Homo sapiens: one gene and its partners. The protein of the gene in region 2 purifies or fractionates together with the protein of the main gene of each other region. This does not show direct contact. Each region holds a gene or a part of one and is shown on either strand. Other genes may lie near its edges. The genes, in order: NADK2, BCAT2, HK3, SUPV3L1 and CAT.

Evidence for each region.
Region 1: the proteins of BCAT2 (region 2) and NADK2 fractionate together in Homo sapiens (co-fractionation; one large-scale study listed by BioGRID). This does not show direct contact.
Region 3: the proteins of BCAT2 (region 2) and HK3 fractionate together in Homo sapiens (co-fractionation; one large-scale study listed by BioGRID). This does not show direct contact.
Region 4: the proteins of BCAT2 (region 2) and SUPV3L1 fractionate together in Homo sapiens (co-fractionation; one large-scale study listed by BioGRID). This does not show direct contact.
Region 5: the proteins of BCAT2 (region 2) and CAT fractionate together in Homo sapiens (co-fractionation; one large-scale study listed by BioGRID). This does not show direct contact.

Annotation. Positions count from the first base shown.
Region 1 is NC_000005.10:36,196,796-36,200,745, forward strand, and holds part of NADK2 (NAD kinase 2, mitochondrial), read right to left. Parts: intron 3,486-3,950; coding exon 3,432-3,485; intron 870-3,431; coding exon 746-869; intron 1-745. UniProt on the Homo sapiens protein: Mitochondrial NAD(+) kinase that phosphorylates NAD(+) to yield NADP(+). Can use both ATP or inorganic polyphosphate as the phosphoryl donor.
Region 2 is NC_000019.10:48,808,185-48,812,838, forward strand, and holds the start of BCAT2 (branched-chain-amino-acid aminotransferase, mitochondrial isoform a precursor), read right to left. Parts: upstream 2,846-4,654; 5' UTR 2,824-2,845; coding exon 2,800-2,823; intron 2,654-2,799; exon of another isoform or gene 2,160-2,653; intron 53-2,159; exon of another isoform or gene 1-52. UniProt on the Homo sapiens protein: Catalyzes the first reaction in the catabolism of the essential branched chain amino acids leucine, isoleucine, and valine. May also function as a transporter of branched chain alpha-keto acids.
Region 3 is NC_000005.10:176,892,681-176,896,630, forward strand, and holds part of HK3 (hexokinase-3), read right to left. Parts: intron 3,506-3,950; 5' UTR 3,480-3,505; coding exon 3,384-3,479; intron 1-3,383. UniProt on the Homo sapiens protein: Catalyzes the phosphorylation of hexose, such as D-glucose and D-fructose, to hexose 6-phosphate (D-glucose 6-phosphate and D-fructose 6-phosphate, respectively).
Region 4 is NC_000010.11:69,196,784-69,200,733, reverse strand, and holds part of SUPV3L1 (ATP-dependent RNA helicase SUPV3L1, mitochondrial), read right to left. Parts: intron 3,743-3,950; coding exon 3,651-3,742; intron 2,363-3,650; coding exon 2,182-2,362; intron 1,631-2,181; coding exon 1,537-1,630; intron 455-1,536; coding exon 235-454; intron 1-234. UniProt on the Homo sapiens protein: Major helicase player in mitochondrial RNA metabolism. Component of the mitochondrial degradosome (mtEXO) complex, that degrades 3' overhang double-stranded RNA with a 3'-to-5' directionality in an ATP-dependent manner.
Region 5 is NC_000011.10:34,448,573-34,452,522, reverse strand, and holds part of CAT (catalase), read right to left. Parts: intron 3,332-3,950; coding exon 3,160-3,331; intron 1,536-3,159; coding exon 1,425-1,535; intron 447-1,424; coding exon 316-446; intron 1-315. UniProt on the Homo sapiens protein: Catalyzes the degradation of hydrogen peroxide (H(2)O(2)) generated by peroxisomal oxidases to water and oxygen, thereby protecting cells from the toxic effects of hydrogen peroxide.

The DNA of each region.
Region 1 (3,950 bases), on a different chromosome or scaffold from region 2:
CTGTGGATTAATCAAATTAACTCTCAAATGACAACATGAATGTTAAGATAAATTTCCTTATTTGTGTCTAACCTGGGGAAAAAATTAATTGTATGTCTATAAAAAGAAAATATGTACACTAAGGTCAGCAATTTGTTAATTGCTTAAGCTGTTTTCTGCTTGCCATGAGATAGATGACATTTTCTCCGAATTTTAGATTTTCTTGTTAATTTGGAAAATTGGGGAACCTTTACAAAATAAGAAATTACATCCACTTTTTTATATCCTCTCTCCCCAAAAATAAAATGAAGCAAATTCAATAGGCAGGAGGTCACTTTTAGGGAAAACCTAGAAGAAATGAATACTATTCTAAAGGTTTATTGCTATGCAATCTAAGTTTTCTATCAGTGTTTATTGTGTTTTTATTCTACAGCTTATGAAAAAGAAGGGGCTTTCTATTCAGCTTCTTTTACAATTATTGTGTCTTCGTTCATTTTTTAAAAACCAACAAATCACTGAAATAAATAACTGTACCCTTTCTAGTCACTTAAGTTTTAGCTTCTCTAAAATGGCACAATGAGTGTAAAAGAAAATATGATTTTAGCCGGGTTAGCATGATACCTTGTTACTTTCACAGGTTCTACTTTTCCTGCTAGATTAAGTTTGAATGAGCAAATTTAATGAAATTAAATAGTTTTCAAACCAAGTGGGCTTTGTAACAATGAAAGGGATGAAAACAGTCAGAAGTCAGATTGAGGATGCTTACTTTGAGGAGAAACAACGCTGACGACTGCTTGAGAAAACTCTATTTGCTATTGGTTCTCGAATACTGAAAAGTATTTTTGGTTCTTCCGGACTGTAGAGCAGTGATTCATTATATTCATTTGTTACTACAAAGAAAAAAAAATTAGCACACTCAATAAAAGATGGTCACTTCTGAGAAGGGCAAAACAAAAAATAGATGCCATCCCCCATTTAAATTCTGTTCCAAAAGTATATTTGGGAACAAGTTTCTTGAAACTCGTAACACATATTCCATTAAAACACAGTAACAAAAAACCTTATAAATAAGAATTAGGTACCATGATTTGCCCACAGAAACATACATCACCCACAATACAGTAGGAATAGGTACAACTGGGGAAAAAGAAAAAAATAAAAAACACTAGCTTCAAAACTTGTAATTAAACAATAGAGGAATTAGATAGATGCACTCAAAAAAGGAACTTGAGTTGCCATATGGCCCTACCAAGTTCTTTCCAAAATACCATGTCAAAGAGCTCATAACGATGATAATAAGCAAACAGCTTGATATAAAATGCAGTCTCAAACAATGACAGGCAATATCCTTTCTCCAATACACCCCCATTACTCAACATATTTTCTAGAAATCTTTGGGACCTGCTTTCTCTCTAATCAAGAGGTACAGGAGGGCTGGAATACAAAGCACAAATTGGTTGAGAAAACTACAAAGATATCAGGCTTGAAAGTTTAGTTGAGTACTACATTAAAAAAATTAAAAGACTGTCAGATAATCTACCTTATTTATAAAAGTTTCATTTGAATTACTGACTTTAAAAAAAATCTAATTCACCCACAAAAATAAAATTTGGCTTCATGAGAACACACCACAAAAAAGCATGCTAGCTCTGAAGGAAATTTCAAGAGTAATTTCATAAATGTCTGTAACAGTGATTGCATCACTGGCATTCACTGTTGCTTCTGAAGATAGTCAAATCTTGAAAGGAATGCCATTCATTAAAGTAAAGCTTTGGTATGTTTACTAAAAGAAGAAAGTCACAGATATTTTTATATATATATAGATATAATATAAATTAATATATATATACATCCTTAATTTATATATATACCTGATATAAATTTCAGTTATTTTATATATATTATTTTTTAAGTTGAATTATATAATTAAGAAGCAATTACTATATATACCTAACTTTCCTTTGATACAGATTTACTGCTGGTGCTAATTCATGAACCATGATTAAAATAATCTTGTAGGTCTCAAATTGAGTGAAGGAGACCAGAATCCATTTTAGAAGGCTGAACGGGGCTTGAGAGATTTGCTTCTTTTTTCAAACTATTTTAGAGGCAAACTGTCCCCCCAACAAAGGAGGTCTTATGTGGAAACCTAACAATAAAGATAAACTGACACTGTTCAAATATTGTATCAGGTTATGTTCTCACTCATAGGTGGGAACTGAACAATGAGAACACATGGACACAGGAAGGGGAACATTACACACTGGGGACTGTTGTGGGGTAGGGGGTGGGGGGAGGAATAGCATTAGGAGATATACCTAATGCTAAATGACGAGTTAATGGGTGCAGCACACCAACATGGCACATGTATACATATGTAACAAACCTGCACGTTGTGCACATGTACCCTAAAACTTAAAGTATAATAATAATAAAATTAAAAAAAAGAAAAAGATATTGCTAACTCATGTTAAGGTAACCAATGAGAATGAGGCCGTTCTGATAAATCCAAGCATTTGTGTTTATGGATGACAGTTGCAGTCTTACATGTGTCAATATTCACTTGGTGTCTATATATTTTTTGTCATATATGTTGAGAAAATACATAGGTTGGTAGATGTAACTTTAAACACATTTGGGTTTGGAGTTTTATAAAAAACAATCTAGCTTGAAATTTTAGGATATCCTTCAATGCAGAGAGCAAAAAAAGCTTTACTTTGAGGTGTGTACAAGAATGATCCTGGTAGATAGTAGACTTCAGTGTGTTACAATCTGATACGCAAATCAAATGAATGTGTTTTTCAGTTTAAAAATTTAAATTGTTTTAAACAGAATTTAAAGAATACATTTGAAGAACTTCTACAAACACCAGCTAGATGATCTACTTTAACCCCCTCTTTTTACAACTGTAGAGGATCACAGCCTTGCCCAAGTTTCACAGCTGATGTAGTAGATCTGGAAATGGAACCTACGATTTCAGATTTCTTCATAAGTATTCTTTCTCTAACAGCACTAATTCTCTTACAGGAATCGTGAGGTAATCAGGCAAAACTAGGGAGAAGAATGTTAAAAAGAATATTTGAGTGAATAAGAAGATAAGCACTCATAGCTCAGTGAATTCCATCTCATTCAGAGGATATTAATGGCTTACTGAATTTAGCTATGCATTTCCTATTTGTGAGATAAGGATTTTTCTGTAATTCCCTATCCCCCAGGACATGTTTGCAGTTATACTGCTTTGACTTAAGAGTTATATTTCAGGGTTGACTAAAAATCACAACAAAAGTCCAACTTTAATCTTTATGTTGCTTAAAGACATTTAAGGGGATATTGTATTAAAAGCATGTTTGAGTAAAAAAAAGTACTTTGCTAATTAAACAACACTTCACACTATCATCCTTAAAACTGAAACAGAACTAAACTGTTAGTGATTATTATCATTTGTCACTGACCTTTCTCTACCAATTCTCTGTTCAATGGAAGACTCAAATTTCCTTGTCGTTTTGCTGTTGAAAAAGGAAAGGGGGAAAATGTATGTTATAAATATATATATCTTATATATATATTTTCCTTGAAAAAGGGGGAAAAATGCTTAAAGTGTATATGTGTTATATATATATATGTTATTATGTAACATAATAGCTAATATAAAACAACATGTATACATTATATAGCATATTATCATAAATAAACAGTAGCCCCCCCTCGCCCTTATTAGCACTTTTGCTTTCCATGATTTTGCTTTCTTCCAGTTTCAGTTACTGGCAGACAACCATGATACAAAAATATTACATGGAAAATTATAGAAATCAACAATTCATGTTTCAAATTGCACATCATTCTGAGTAGCATGGTAAAATCTCACGCAGTCCTGCTCTAACCCACCTGGGATATGAGTCATCCTTTTGTCCAGCTTATCCATGCTGTACATATTACTGGCCCATTAGTCACTTAGTAGCTGACTTGGTTAT
Region 2 (4,654 bases):
AGATTGCCTTTGGGTGGCGACATCTAGACTGCTCAGCCTTGCAGCCATGCTTCTGCCCAGAGGGATAGGACACCCACAGTATGAGAGACACAAACACAGTGCGACAGCCAGCCTGTGGGCAGGAGAGCTGCCCTCAGAGCCAAGATGAAAAAAAGAGAGTAAGAGATGGAAGAGGAAGGATGAGAAAAAGAAACACAGAAAGGGGCGCACAAACAGAAAAAAAAAAAAACAAAAACAGAAATTGACGCCAAGAAACAAGAGATGCCAAAATAGATCTAATCATAGAAAGAGGCCACACGCAGTGGCTCGCGCCTGTAATCCCAGCACTGTGGGAGGCCGAGGCAGGAGGATAGCTTGAGGCCAGGTGTTCAAGACCAGCCTGGGCAACATAGGGAGACCCTGTCTCTACAGAAAATACAAGTTAGCTGGGTGTGGTGGCGGGCGCCTGTAGTCCCAGCAACTTGGGAAGCTGAGGCAGGAGAATTGCTTAAACCCAGGAGGCGGAGGTTGCAGTGAGCCGAGATGGTGCCACTGCACTCCAGCCTGGGCGACAGAGCAAGACTCTCTGTCTCAATTAAAAAGAAAAAAAACAAAGAAAGAAAGTAGGCAGCTGGCTCAGTAGCTCATGCCTGTAATCACAGCACTTTAGGAGACAGAGGTGGGAGGACTGCATGAGGCCAGGAGTTCAAGATCAGCCTGGGCAATATAGCAAGACCCTGTCTCTACAAACAATTTAAAAATTAGCCAGGTATGGTGGCACACACCTGTAATTCCAGTTACTCAGAAGGCTAAGGTGGGAGGATCACCTTGACCTACTGGTCAAGGCTGTGGTGAGCTACGATCACACTGCTACACTCCAGCATGAGTGATAGAGTGTCTCTCAAAAAAAAAAAAAAAAAAAAAAAAAAAAAAGACCAGCATGGTGGCTCATGCCTGTAATCTGAGGCAGGTGGATCGCTTGAGCCCATCTACTCGGGAGGCTGAGGCACCACAGTCACTTGAACCCATGAGGCGGAGGTTACAGTGAGCCGAGATCGTGCCACGGCACTCCAGCCTGAGCAACAGAGCAAGACTCGGTCAAAAAGAAAAGACGAGACAAAGAAATAAAGTACGTTTGGGGGTTCACAGGGCAGGTCTCTATAATGTGATAGAACCTCCATTATGTCCCATACAGCCCAGGAGTATCACCATCAAAGACCAGGAGTGTCACTGTCAAAGCCCAGCAGTGCCCTCCATACTCCAGGACTGTCCCCATATCACGGCCCCGGAGAGACCCCATCATACCGCAGTCTGCCCTTGTCACAGCCCACACATGACCCCATCACGTCTAGAACTGCCCCCTTTATAGCCCAGGACTCTCCCCCATCACAGACCAGGGCTGTTCTATGATGGCCCAAGATGCTCCACATCACAAGTCCAGATTGTGCCTGTAACTTATCAGAACTGGTCCCCAGCAGAGCCAAGTACTGTCCCAAACAGCTCAGGAATGTCCCCTATCCAAAGCCCAGCACTTTTCCCCATTATAACCAGCATTGTCTCTGCCAAATATCAGGGCTTATTTCCTATTCACCAGGTCTGAAATTAAAAAAAAAAAAAAAATCCCATTGTTGTCTTTTTCAATCCCCAGGACTATCCCTATGTTGCTGTCTAGGCCAGTACCTTCCAGACTGTCCCTACCATGGTCCAGCACTGTCCTCTCCACACCCCGGGACTGTCCCCATCACAGCTGAGGACTCAGCCCAATTATCTCCATTACAGGATATCTCTATCTTCATCAGAGCCTAGGAATGTCCCATCATGAGTTCAGGGCCATTCTATGACACCAGAACTGTGCCATGATGAGACGGTCCACATCAGTCCCAAGTGGACCTGTCAAAGCCCAGTACTGCCCCACCACAGTCCAGGAGTGTCACCACTAAAGCCCAGATTGCCCACATACCCCAGGTATCCCAGGACTATCCCTATCAGTCACTAAGAGCCGAAAAAAGTGAAATTCTGCCCTGACATTCATCAGCTAGGATAAGAGACTCAAATAAAGTCAGGTGTAAAGTTAACAGACAGTTCTCCCAAGGTTACACCGCAGCTGTGAAGGCTTGTAATGACCCCTTTCTTTGGCTGTTTCCTTCCTCACTGAGAAACCTTGTTCTCTGAAATCATAGACTCTGGGAAACGCTGCTGCTGTTTGACATCGCACAGTCAGAAGGGATCGTCTCAGCCAGCCTGCAGCATCTGTCACTTTGACCATGAGACGCTGCCTCGATTTCCAATCCAGGTGCAAAGCTTCAGATAGGAGTTTGGGAAGCACAGCAATCCCCATCTCTTATTTTTTTCAACTTTCATTCCAAGAAAATAGGACCTTGAGTCCAATTCCCAGAGCTGAGACTTGAGGTCCAACTCTGCCTTCACCTGCACCCGGCCCTGGAGGTCTGGGCCCCTTTATTCCAGCTCCCGCACAGGCTGATGCCCCACCGCACCCCAGGGCTCCGCTCCCCAAATCACAACCTCCCCACCCCCACGCCTCCCTCATTACAGGGTCCTCCACCATGTTTCCCTTTTTTTTTTTTTTTTTACCTCCCCGCCAATTACTTGCCCCACCTCATCCGCGTCTACCTGCTCCCCCTCACCCCATTAAAGCCTCGTGCTCCTTTCCAAAGGGCGCCATCCTCCTCCGCGCCCTGCAGCGGAACCCCAGGGCGGGAGGAGCGGCGCCGAGTCGGACCGGCTGCAGGCCAGTGGTCTTCCCGGAAGTGCGCCTCCCCCGGTTATTTCCCAGACCCCGGCGCGGGGCTGCGAACCCACCTGCCCCAGAGCGGCTGCGGCCATGATCCGTGCGGCGCGTAACTGTGCCCGCCCGGGGCGCGGCTCCGAAGAGAGACGTTCCGGCCACGCCCCGCTCACGCCTCCTTCTGGGGGAAGGCGGCCGACCAGCGCCCCAGGCCGTCCCAGCTCCAGGGCGTCGGCAGGGAGCCGGACACTGCTGCGGGGCGCAGGCGCTGGTGGGAGGGCAGGACTTGAAATACGGTCCCTGCCAGGCGAAGTGGCTCAGGTCTGTAATCTTAGCACTTTGGGAGGCCGAAGCGGGCGGATTACCTGAGGTCAGGAGTTAGAGACCAGCCTGGTCCAACATGATGAAACCCCGTCTCTACTAAAAATACAAAAAATTAGCCGGGCGTGGTGGCGGGCGCCTGTAATCTTAGCTACTCGGAAAGCTGAGGCAGGAGAATTGCTTGAATCGGGGAGGCAGAGGTTGCAGTGAGCCGAGATGATGCCACTGCACTCCAGCCTGGGCGACAGAGTGAGACTCCGTCTCAAAAAAAAAAAAAAAAAAAAGTCCTGGCTTGGTGGCTCACACCTGTAATCCCAGCACTTTGGGGGCCAAGGCGGGTGGATCACCTGAGGCCAGGAGTTCAAGACCAGCCTGGCCGACATGGGGAAACCCCGTCTCTACTAAAAATACAAAAATTAAGGCCAGGCACGGTGGCTTACGCCTGTAATCCCAGCACTTTGGGAGGCCGAGGTGGGCGGATCACAAGGTCAGGAGTTCAAGACCCGCCTGACCAACATGGTGAAACCCCGTCTCTACTAAAGATACAAAAATTAGCCGGGTGTGGTGGTGTGCGCCTGTAATCCCAGCTACTAGGGAGGCTGAGGCAGGAGAATCATTTGAACCCTGGAGGCGGACGTTGCGGTGAGCCGAGATCGCGCCACTGCATTTCCAGCCTGGGTGACAGGGTGAGACTCCGTCTCAAAATAAATAAATAAATAAAAATAAATACATAAAAATACAAAAATTAGTCGAGCGTGGTGCCGGGGGCCTGTAATCCCAGCTATTCGGGAGGCTGAGGCAGGAGAATCGCTTGAACCCGGGAGGCGGAGGTTGCAGTGAGCCGACATTGCACCACAGCACTCCAGCCTGGGCGACAGAGTGAGACTCCGTCTCAAATTAAAAAAAAAAAAAAAAAATCGTATCCCTCGGCCATCGTGTCTCGGCAATCCTACCCTGGGACACTCTGTCTCCAAATTCTACCCCCACAGTGCCCCCAAGTCCTGTCCCCGGGTCACTATCCTGCCACCCCTAACAGCCACAGGCCCAAACAGCCAAACCGCGGGACCCTTCCCTCACAGGGCGTCGCCCTGTTTTTCTGCGCTCCGCCCCAGTCCTCCTGCCCCACCCGCCAGCCCCGGGCTGTAGGGTCGGGGCCCACTGACAGCTCCCGCCCCCGCCGCGGCCAATCAGCGGTTGGTGCACACGCCCCCCCGGCCACAGCCAATCCGCAGCAGCCCTGCAGCTCCACCCCTCACCTGGGGGACGCCAGCGCACCCGGGCCCTGCCCCCCCCCTGGGTCCAGCTGGGGAGTCTGCGTCCCCCAGTGCCCTGCGGACCAAAACCCAGGAGTTTCAGCCCCTCCTCCCTCTGATCCAGATGTCTCAACCCCCTACTTTCTCTTCCCTTTGGACTTTTCTTGCCAGCCACCTTCCTATTCTACAGGCAGTGAGAGGAAAACTCCTTTTCCCTGAGGGCCAAGAGTAAGAGGGCCTTCTGCGTCTCCCCCTCCATTACCTCCTAATTAGCGCTTAATTTACTCTCCCCTGCGGGCCTTTAGTTAGCGCGCTGGTGAAGCCAAACCGCTCTACCCTTCCCAGGAGCCCCTGG
Region 3 (3,950 bases), on a different chromosome or scaffold from region 2:
CATTTCAATGACCTATTGCCCCAAACTGGACACTTATCTTTGGAATAACAACTCAGGCACCTGGATAATAAGGCCGCTCCAGGGAGGAGAGGCTGGGAGGAGAAGCTGCCAGTTGAGGGAGATAAGGACAACTCAGTCCCACCTCTTGCTTTAGGAAGAGAATGGGAAACAGATCCCTAAGAAGGCGAATCATCCTAACTGGGGTGCCAGATGTCCACTTACACGTTTGCCTTACAGCACATGCTTCCAGCAGCCATGCCTGCTAGGGGTGCCCATGCCCACTCTATCTCACCCTGACCAGGCCTATCTGGTGACAAGGGAAAGAGAAGCTGAAGCCAAGCTGCAGACCCTGTTTGCTCACAGGCTGCACATCCAGGAACTCAGGCAGTGGGCAGCAAAGTCAAAGAGCTGCAGGACAGGCGGGGTCTCAGCCTTGCCCCTCTGAGCCCCAGCTGCCCAAGTGTTAGAAATATGGAAACGGAGACTCCGAGAGGGCAAGTCATCTGCAGGGCCAAGCAGCTGTGAAGGGGCAGGGGAGAATTTGAACCCATATCTACCTGAATGCAGAGATGTTTCTATGTCAATGTGAAGCTTTATAAAACCTAGAAAGTTCCCTTGAAAAGAACTCAAGGCTGATGAAAGTTGCTGGAAAGAAACCCCAGATGATCCGGCTTGAGAAAACTTACAGCTGAGTCCTCGCACTCCCTTTTTCTGGCTCTGCAGTCCTGGGAAAGTCACACCTCTCTCTGAGCCTCAGTCACCTCTTCGTGCAAAACTGAGAAAATAATAGTACTTGGAAGTCCCCCAATGCCAGGGACTATGTCTTGCTCAAGGCTACATCTGAGGGCCACGAGGAGCACCAGCTGGAAGCAGGATTTGTTGATTGGATGGTTGTGGTGGCATAAGAATTAAAGGCTGTAATGTATGTGGAAGTGCCAAGTGCCATTGGGATGGGAGGGGCGTTTTAGTATTGCTTCATGAAAACAGTAGAGTCACGGAGAAGTCAATGGCTTGGGCAAATTGTTTTTCTTCCTTTTCCTCTTGGGCATATTGAGATGTTCGGGAGGAGAGACTAGAAGACAGCAGAACTGCAAGAAAGACAGAAGGACTTCCCTGGCAGATCCTGGTGAGGCACACACAAGCCAGGAGAAGCTATCGGAGCCACCCCTGACACCCCAGGAAGAGCAGGGAGAGACCTCAGACAGAAGAGCAAGGAGAAAGGCATTAGAGAGCATGTGAAGTCCAATGTGGTTTCAACACTGGCTCTTGTCACCAACTTGCTGTGTTGCTGGCCTGGGCCCATCACCTCACCTCTCTGAGCAAGCAACCCCTCTATCTAGCAGGAACAATAGTACCTACTTCTCAGAGATGCCATGAGGACTGAGACGACAGCAAACCTGAAGTGGAGGAACAGTGTCACACATAGGAGATGCTCAGTGGAACACGGATTCCCTGTCCTCAGAGCACAAAGCACACCCAGCCTGGAGAGCCTGACTCCATACCCTCTCTGATGACAAAGAGAAGCCTGGTGGAAGGGGTGGGGAAGGGCCTCTGAGATGGTACTGGGAACTGGCCACACGTGGTTAACTAACTTTTTTCAACCTAAGGTCATGGCAAGGGGAGCACAGGGTAAGGCCTGTGGTGCTGAGTTGGGGGTCCAGGACCATGGGAAATTTGGTGTCCCTGTGAAGTCCCCCAAAGCCGAAAGGGATTCTTTCAACCGCAGGTGTATGTGATGGAGCCAGCAGGGCAGATGTGGGCCTGCACAGGAGTGTCATCAGGGAGGGGCAAGAAGCGAGGGAGGAGATGACAGCAGGCCCTAGAGCCAGTCCTGGCTGGGCAGGCACTGTGGCCCAGCCACCGCTGTCACTCCTGAGGCACGGCTGTGGGTCAGGCACAGAAGAACTGTCTGCAGCAGGGTCTGGGGTACAGGTTGGACAAGGGGGAAGTGGGAGCATGAAATGCAGCGAGGGGTAATGCCTCCACAATCTGGGCAACAAGCCTAGTCAAGTGGATGTCAGAATATGCCAGAAAACTAAAGAAACTGCAGAGAATGACTCAAGTACCCTTTAGTGGGCACCTCCTCTATGCAAGTCCTTTTTTTTTTTTTTTTTTTGACAGAGTCTCGCTCTGTCACCCAGGCTGGAGTGCAGTGGTACGATCTTGGCTCACTGCAAGCTCTGCCTCCCGGGTTCACACCATTCTCCTGCCTCGGCCTCCCGAGTGGCTGGGACTACAGGCGCCTGCCACCATGCCCAGCTAATTTTTTGTATTTTTTAGTACAGACAGGGTTTCACCGTGTTAGCCAGGATGGTCTTGATCTCCTGACCTTGTGGTCCGCTCACCTCGGCCTCCCAAAGTGCTGGGATTACAGGCCTGAGCCACTGCGCCCGGACTTTTTTTTTTTTTTTTTTTGAGATGGAGTTTTGCTCTTGTTGCCCAGGCTGGAGTGCACTGCCACAATTTTGGCTCACTGCAACCTCTGCCTCCCGGGTTCGAGCGATTCTCCTGCCTCAGCCTCCCAAGTAGCTGGGATTACAGGCATGTGCCACCATGCCGGCTAATTTTGTATTTTTAGTAGAGACGGGGTTTCACCATGTTGACCAGACTGGTCTTGAACTCTTGACCTCAGGTGATCCACCTGCCTCGGCCTCCCAAAGTGCTGGGATTACAGGCGTGAGCCACCGCGCCCGGCCATAGGCAAGTCCTTTATCTCCATTAGCCTTCAGGGGGTGGGGAGGATTAGACTTTATTTTCCTCCATTTTACTGATGAGGAAACAGAGACTAAGAGATATGAAATGGCTTACACAAGAGTTTCCTGCTCAAGGGTGTGGTATGAGACAGCTTCTAAATCTTGGTCAAGATGACAGAAAAAGAAGAAACTCACTTCTGAGCAAGCCTCAGGCATGAGTTTGGCACTAAAATCGTCTGTGTGCCTGATTGTAGCGGCTACATTGAGGGAGACATGCAGGAGGAACTGGAGAGGCGGGAAAGGAAAGGTCTCAAGAACACAACTTTTGACCAGATAACCCTGAGAAAGTCCACTCTAGACTGTGTCACCCACTTGGGGCGGGAGCGGCACCTGTGTGGCAAGGTGGCAAAAATGACATGTTTGGAGCTGAAACACCTCAGCTCAAGCTCCTGTCATGTCTTAAACTCAAGTCATAACACTTCTCTATATCCCTCTTCATCACCTGTAAGATGATCAGCCCAACCTTGCAGTTGTTTGGAGCATGAAAGGAGATCGTTACCAGCTCAGATATGAAAAGCTCAGTGGAAAGGGGCTGCATGGGTGAGAGCCCAGGGCCCCATGGCAGCTTCAGTCACGCTGCTCTTGAAGGCCTTAGACAAGCATGAAACAGGAACCCAGTGCTGAACTTACCAGCTCTGAGCTGTCTGAGGGCCCGGGCAAGCCCTCCTCAGAGCAACTCAGGGTTTCTTCCCCCTGCCGCAACCCTGAAGACCCAATGGAGTCCATGAGCTTCCACAGTGGAAGGTGGCCACCTATGGGAGAAAAGGGACAACCTGGGTCAACCATTTACTCTATAGGCCCTAGGAGTCTGTAACCCAGACCAACTTCCTTCCTTCTGAAGGGGACCAGGAAGGAAGCTGGGAGCAGAATTCAGAACCTCCAACCATCAAAGATCCTGTAGCAGTCAACCAGAAGGCCCTTGTTTTTCACAAGCATGTCTAATGAGAGAGCACTGGAAAGGCTGATTTCAGTCCAAATGCCATTCGTTAATTCTGTCATTCATTGACATTCACCAGTTCCTGATGCCTGCTATGCTGGACGTTGTGGTACAGATGAAGCAGACCTAGGCCCTGCCCTCAGGGACCTCACAGTCTCATCAACAATCACAGTATGATTAGCACAGGCAGTGAGCAAGATGGCCACATGTAATAGATGGACATGCTGCTGTGGTTGGGAGGTCAGGGACATGCTAGAGGC
Region 4 (3,950 bases), on a different chromosome or scaffold from region 2:
ACTAAACTTTGTCAATCTGGACCTTCACTTGCATACCATTCTCTGATCAAAGAACTCTGTGGCTCTCCAAAGCAATAAAGTAGGGCTTTTTTTAATGCAGTTTTCATGGCACAAAATTTTCTTTCACTTATGTCTGTATCCAGAAATGTGTCTGAGGTGAGAGTCTGGATGGTGGGTGAGGGAAAGAATGACTCTCCTCCACAGAGAAGCAGTAGTTAACATGTTACCTCTTACCCTTATAGGATCCACAGGCCTCTTCAAAATTTCCTTTAATAAACTGAGATCTTCATGATTCATTGTTGTAACCTCTCCTTCTTTAAACCGTGAGCTGAATCTGCCAGCTCTGCCAGCAATCTGCAGGGCTTGAGAGGTTGTGATTGGTTCTAGTTCTCTCTCTCCCTTTTCATTGATACTGGGCTTTATAAGGGAGTAAAAAATAATTCTCCTTATGCTCCTGAAACAGAAATAAAAGTGATCCTGCAGACTGTATGAAAAACCCTCCAATACTTGGGTCATTGCATAATGCTCACTCCAATACTAGCTTAGGTCCTCTTGCAACCTTGACTGCCACTTACAAAATTAAGGAAAGTCTGGCACAGTGGCTCACACCCATAATCCCAGCACTTTGGGAGGCTGAGGCAGGAGGATTGTTTTGAGGCCAGGAGTTCAAAACCAGCCTGGGCAACATAGCAAGACCCAAGTCTCTACAAAAAATTAAAAACATCAGCTAGGTTCAGTGGTGTGTGCCTGTTGCTCTAGTACTCGGGGGGCTGAGGCACAAAGACCGCTTGAGCCCAGGAGTTTGAAGCTGCGGTGAGCCATGATCACACCACTGTACTCCGGCGTGGGGCACAGAGTGAGACTCTGTCTCAGAAATAAATAAATACATAAATAAATAATATTTAGGCTTAACATTGTTATCATTTAGAGATAATAACTAGCCCCATGTGCATAATAGGCACTCGGACACCTGACTGAGAAACTGAAAGTAAAGTGACGTAGTACAATAGGTTAGCAGTAGTGGTGGGCAGCATTCAAACGTCCTAGTGTGGGCCGAGTGTAGTGGCTCATGCCTGTAATCCTAGCACTTTGGGAGGCTGAGGTGGGAAGATCACTGGAGGCCAGGAGTTAGAGACTAGCTTGGGCAACAGGGTAAGACCTTGTCACTACCCAAAAAAAAAGAAAATAACCAGGCTTTGTGGTGTGCACCTGTGGTCCCAGCTACTCTGGAGGCTGAGGCAGGAGGATCACTTGGGCCCAGGAGTTCAAGACTGCACTGAGCTACAATTTGATCACTGCACTCCAGCGTGGGTAAAAGAGCAAGACCCTGTCCCTAAGAAAAGTCCTGGCACTATTTAATATTTTCTTTTTATTTCCCTCAATAGGTGTAGGCAAGACAAACCTCAAATCTAGCCTATAATATTTATTCTCCCAAATCATAGCGTTTGGTCATTAATGCCAATTAGAAAACTGAAAAACAAAAAAACCACCATTTAACTCACCAAATATTCATCTTATTAAAAACAAATTACTTACAAATTAAGTCCCATGCCAATTGCATCTGTAGCAACCAAGATTTTGCATGGGTCATTGGGATCATTAAACTTTTTTGCTTGAGCAAGTTTGGTCCCTAAAACAAGAACAATTTATGTTAAATCAGTGTTCTCAGTCTTTTATTACATCAAGCTAAGTACATCTTGGAAACCCTCACCTCCTGTTCTTCCCATTTTTAATGATAAAACCTTTACTGTTTCAAACTTTATTTCTTTATATCCTCAAAGAGCCACTTATCCTTTACATCCATTCCTTCAAATACTCCGTCATATAGCAACACAATCCCCCACCACACTAGCCTTATTCCTGAGGACACAGATTTCAGGACTACAACTTAAAAGGACATGGTCAAGACCAGATTTCAATGACATTTCTGTAAGAAAATAATAAACTCAACATTTAAGATACAGTCTAATAATAGCAGCAACTAACAAGAACTATAATTAAAATACTTCTATTTCCACTAAGATGAAATAGAAAATTATTTATTTTATATGACGTTTAACAAATTACCAATACATCAAGCAGCTTAATTCAATATTGTTTACCATTTTTTTATATATATCTCAACATAAATTGCAAAGATAGGAGATTTCATATCTTGTCACGAGGAAAGTCAATAATTACCAGGTGGGAGACTGCCATATATAACAGCTGATTCTAATCCCCGAATTTCAATCTGCCGACTCACAGAATAAATATCATTCTTGCTAAAACAGACAATGCAGTCCCCAGGCCGAAGGTTATCTAAAGATTCTAGTGCATGGTCCAGCACAGAAATGGGGGTAAGCCTCTTATAGTCTCGAACCTACAATAAAGACATGAAATGGCAAAATGACACACCCAACTCAACTTCTTGTGACTAGTAATTAAGTGAAAAGATTGTAATGCAGTTAAGAGTAGCTAAAAACTGATAAGTACCAATGTTTTTCAAAAGAAAACACAGAAAAACATTTATTTTGATATTATAAGTGTTACCATCACTTCTCATTGGCATCTCTAAATTAATAAGATGAAACAGAGTGTTTCACCTGTTTTCAAAGCTTTTTCTCATATATTTCATTTTCACGGCAATGTGTTAAGTTCAGAAAGGTTATTAACTGCTATTTCCATTTTATAAAATAGTAAAACTGAGCCCAATAAAAAATTAATGTCTGAGGCACATTTTGCAAGTCTAACCTTCTGTGACTTGTCTAAAGAATGCAAAGCTAAGAATGGCAAAACACAGAATGGACTCCAAAATTTCTTCCACTATATTCCACTATCTCTCCTTGAAAACTGAGCACAAAACTAAAATAACAGGCTAATTCAAAACTATTTCCTTGGCTTATGCTTATAATCCCAGCACTTTGGGAGGCCAAGGTGGGAGAATTGCTTGAGCACTGGAGTTCGAGACCAGCCTTGGTAACACAGTGAGATGCCCTCTGCTCAAAAAATAAAAAATTAGATGGGCATGGTGGCAAACACCTGTAGTCCCAGCTATTTGGGAGGCTGAAGTGGGAGGATCACTTGAGTCCAGGAGGCTGAGACTGCAGTGAGTTGTGATTGCACCACAGCACTCCAGCCTGGGTAACAGAGTGAGACCTTGTCTCAAAAAATAATAATAATAATAATAATTCATTTTACTATAGAACTCTGGTAAAGAAAAAGAGAAGCAGGATTAAAAGGAAACCAGTTACTTCCAACTCTAAGAATTTCAAAAAGGAATATAAACTGTGTCTGGCAATTAGATGTGTATCAAAGGCCCCAATATCTGACATACAACACTTTGAAAACGACAAACTTGCTGGGTCTCCAACTTCTAAGAGTACTGATTTATTTAATTCGAAGAGATCTACTCAAGCCCCACAAGGTTTTGTCAAGAAGTGAAGAATTTCCTGTACTCTTGGAAGACTTAGGGTGTGATGACCACTCTGTCAGAACTTCAGATCATGAGGTTCAATCAAATATATATGGTCTAGTTGATCACAAGAAAATGAAGCTTTCTTTTTAGTTAAGTTCTGACGCTGGCATTATCTAGGGCCTCTGAAGCCACTGCCTAGGTACTCTGGACTATTTGATATGCCACCTGGAGAACAAAGCATCTAATCGAATACCTCCACTTCCTCCCCCGTTGTGTACATAAGCTCCATCACCAGGTCAATAGCAGCAGGTTCTCCACACAAATGAACCTCTTCAGCACACAGTCCTGTCAATGCAAAACTGGGTTTCTTAATTTTAAAGATTTATAATTAAATATACAACATTTTACATAGCCAAAGTACTTTACGTTGGCTTACATATTGCTTTACAACCTTACCAAGTATTTTCAAAAATATTATCTCTGATGCAAACCTTGAAATAATCACCAACTTCTAATGGGCAAAGATTATCCAATTTTTATTAATCTCAGGCCT
Region 5 (3,950 bases), on a different chromosome or scaffold from region 2:
TCAGAGCATGTAGAGACACCCTCTGCTTGTTTCCAAAGTAAAGTCCCTCTTTTTACTAATCTTCGATGCTCTGCAAGGAAAACTAAACTCACTTCCCATTAAGTCAATCTGTCTTAAAATGACAAATCTAAGACCAATGGTAACTGTTCTTACTTTATCTTATTAAATACAGAAAAATGTGTTGAAAAAAGTAGTCCAGACAACTCGCATTCTTTTCTTTCTGCCTTTCCCACGGCTTCTCCTCAAATGCCAACCTATTTGAAATCAATTTAAGTCAACAAACATTTGTTGAGTGCAAAATACTCTATTACCTACCAATATGGGATCCCTGATGAAGAAAATGGGGGTGTTATTTCCAACGAGATCCCAGTTACCATCTTCTGTGTAAAATTTCACTGCAAACCCACGAGGGTCCCGAACTGTGTCAGCTGAACCCGATTCTCCAGCTACAATATTCAAATGGAAACAGGAAGCATAAGCCACAGCACTTTGCATCCAAGAAGCCTGGAGACATAAAGAAGCACCTGGATCCATCCTTTCTAATCCACTTCCAAGAACTAAATTAGGTATTTAAGTGCCCGGGTTATTATTTCTACCCACCAGCTAATTCAGTCCACAAATCAAACAAAATAATTAATTGAGAGCAATAAGAGAACACATGTAATAACAGCTGACAATGTCATTCATTTACCATAATAAGATAACTTTGTTCAAACAGGTAATTGAACTTTTAATTAAAATAAGGGAAGAAAATAATTATGAGGCTTAAAGTAGTGACAAACAGAATAAGTGAGTTGTCAAAATGATGAGGTTAACATTAAGAAAATGAGTTAAAATATTGGTTCTTAGTTCTTAATTTCATTTATTTTTACATTCCACAGTATTTTTAAAATGCAGAGACTGACACAGAAACGGAACTAGTGAAGCACTAGGTATGTTGAAATATAGTATGATAGATCTAATACTATCTCTGTAACGTGAGAAACATCACTTAGCCTCTCAAAAATAAAAAGAATCCCACTCTGCAAAGTAGATCTACAAATCAGAGATTATATCTGTAAAGCACCTAACCACAGTTGGCACAGAATTAATTCTCAATAAAGGTCAGCTGTAGGCATAGTTATTAAATAAGATTTCCACTCTATTCTTCTGTTAGAGGCAACCACTTTTAGGAAAGCTCTTTCCAAATGTCACAGAATTGCAGAGGTAGCCTCTGTGTAAGTGTGATTTCCTAAGACCTCAACAAACAGAAATACAAGTAACTTCCTATGTGTCTCCAAATATGTCTTCTACTGTAAAACCTTGACATAATTTGGAGAAGTGCTTGCTTCCTATTTTCTAATAACTTTTTCTTTAAGTTATAAACATCCCCAAAAGGTGAAGTTGAGTTAAGCCATACCAATCACGCCAATAAACCAACTTACCAACAGTGGAGAACCGAACTGCGATGGGAGTCTTCTTTCCAATATGCTCAAATACCTTTGCCTTGGAGTATTTGGTAATGTCATGTGTGACCTCAAAGTAGCCAAAGGCCCCTAACGAGAAAGACACAGAAATCCTTACCATGAGACCATTACTCAGACATTCAGGTCCTCAACAGGCACCTGGGTGACAAGAGAAAATGATGGTTAGCACCAGCCTTCTGGGAGCTTCCAGTATGTTGGAGGAAGGGGAAATGCCCAAACACAAAATAAAGAGGGTGAAATGCAAAGCCCTATTCTATCATTCAGTGCTAAGTCGAATGCCACATAGCTGGAGCCAAGAGAAGGAGGTGAGTGAGGCTAGAAGTCGTCAAGGTTGGCCCAAGGACACAGGGTCTCAGAGGGGCCTGAAGTACAGGTAGGACCTATGAGAGAAAGTGAAGAACAGAGAGAAGAGGAGATGAAAACATAAGAGAAAGAATCTTTTCAACACTTAGCAACGATGATACAAAGCAAGCAATAAACTAAACAAGTCAAGATGGAAAAATACACACAAACCACTGGAGAAGATGGGGAGAAACCTTATCCAGGAAGAAGAGATGAAGAAATGCAGAAGTCCTAACTGGAAGTCCAAGTCAGCAAGCTAAGAGAAAAACTTCCTTTCTGTGGAGCTCTTTTTCCAACTGAGTTTTTCACTTTCTTTCAAATACCACCCCCATCTTTTGTGTCTGATATAACAGCGATAAAGAAAGTTTTACAGAAATTGTTGGAAAAAAGGAAAGGAAAAATCATCACAAACCCACCACCCTAACATAACTACCCCAAATTTTGCAGCTCATTCCAGTAATTACCCAGTAAGTACATCATTTAAACTTAGTTGCAATTGCAGTGCATGTGTCTATGTCTGTATTTCTGTACAGCAGGTCCTCAAACAACATTGTTTTGTTCAACGTTGTTTCATTATAACGTTGATGAGAAAAAAATCTATTCCTAGCTGAGGCCACCATCTGTGTGGAGTCTGCATGTTCTCCCCATGTCTAGATAGGTTTTCTCCTGGTACTCCAGCTTCCCCCCACATCCCAAAGATGTGCGTGTTAGGTGAACTGGCATGTCTGAATGGTCCCAGTGTGAGTCCACCCTGCAATGGACAGCATCCTGTCCAGGGCTGGCTCTTGCCTTGTACCCCAACCTGCCAGGACAGGCTCTGGCCTCCCACCACCTTGAACTGGAATAAGCTAGTAAATAACTATCTTATTTTACTAATCTTTCTTAAAGGTATGTATGGCTCACATTTATTTCAATGTTTAATATAAGAGGTATTTTGAGTCTCTATTTAGAAGTTTGATGATGTTTTATCAATCAGAAATATGCCATAGGAACTTAACTCTTGCTTACGTCAATTAGCCTATCATAAAATTGGTTTCATTACATGTCGTTTAAAGTCAAAGTTTCCAAGAACCTATTGATGTTAAGTGAGGACTTATTGTATTTTTATTCCTTCAATGATGGGAGAAATGGAAGACTGCTATTTTTAAAAGAAACTATTTTATATATAATGTTTAACCTGAGGAAATAACCATCATTTATTTACTAATTTCCCTACTGCTGGATGTTTTTCCTTTCTCCCACAAATGGAGATTTGACACTTGTGTTAAAGGTCTTCCAATCCTTTGGGAAATAACACTTGACCCAGGTGCTGTGAAACAATCTTTTTACAGCAAATAAACACAGCACTTACCTGCTCCTTTAGCATGCACAACTCTCTCAGGAATTCTCTCTCGGTCAAAATGAGCCATTTCATCAGTGAAAACCACATCCTGAACAAGAAGGGGCCCACGGGGCCCTACTGTAATAACATTAAGTTTGTCTCCTACTGGGTTACCAGCTCCAGTGGTCAGGACATCAGCTTTCTACAGGAACACAGAAAGAAAGTGCAGGAGAGTTAGCACAATCAAACCTTTCATTTACACTGTCACGGGTACATAGCTTTGCAATGTTTATACCATCTGCCCTCTTTTTTAATTTCCTGTGTCCAAAGTACTAAAATCTGACAGGATGGGCCATTGCCTGAAACTTTTAGTGATGCCCCAGAAACCCTTGACAAATCTCAACACTAATCTGCTAAGAAACTTGCTCTGAAGAGCAGAAAGATGATTTTGGAGCCTGAAAATGTGCTCAGCACCTGCTCCAGAGAAAGCCACTGGGTTCTGCAAAGCTCCCAGTCAGAGAGGTGCCCAAAAGCGTCCTACAAGCTTAACAGTGAAATGTCCAATCCAGCAATGAGAAGACGGTCTCCAGGGAAGCTGTGCTGGTCAATACTTTACTCAGAACTTACAAACGCTTTATTACTGCCACGATCTTCAAGTGCGCTACCTTGTTTAGTGCATCTCAAGAAATGTACACCAGCTATTTGCAACATCTCTTTTCAATTAAAAAAAAAAAGTCAATGGCTTTCACTGTCACTAAAAGTAAACTGTTACTGGTAAGGTGGATTATAGTATTAATGTTTTAAAGATAGCAAATGTCTCT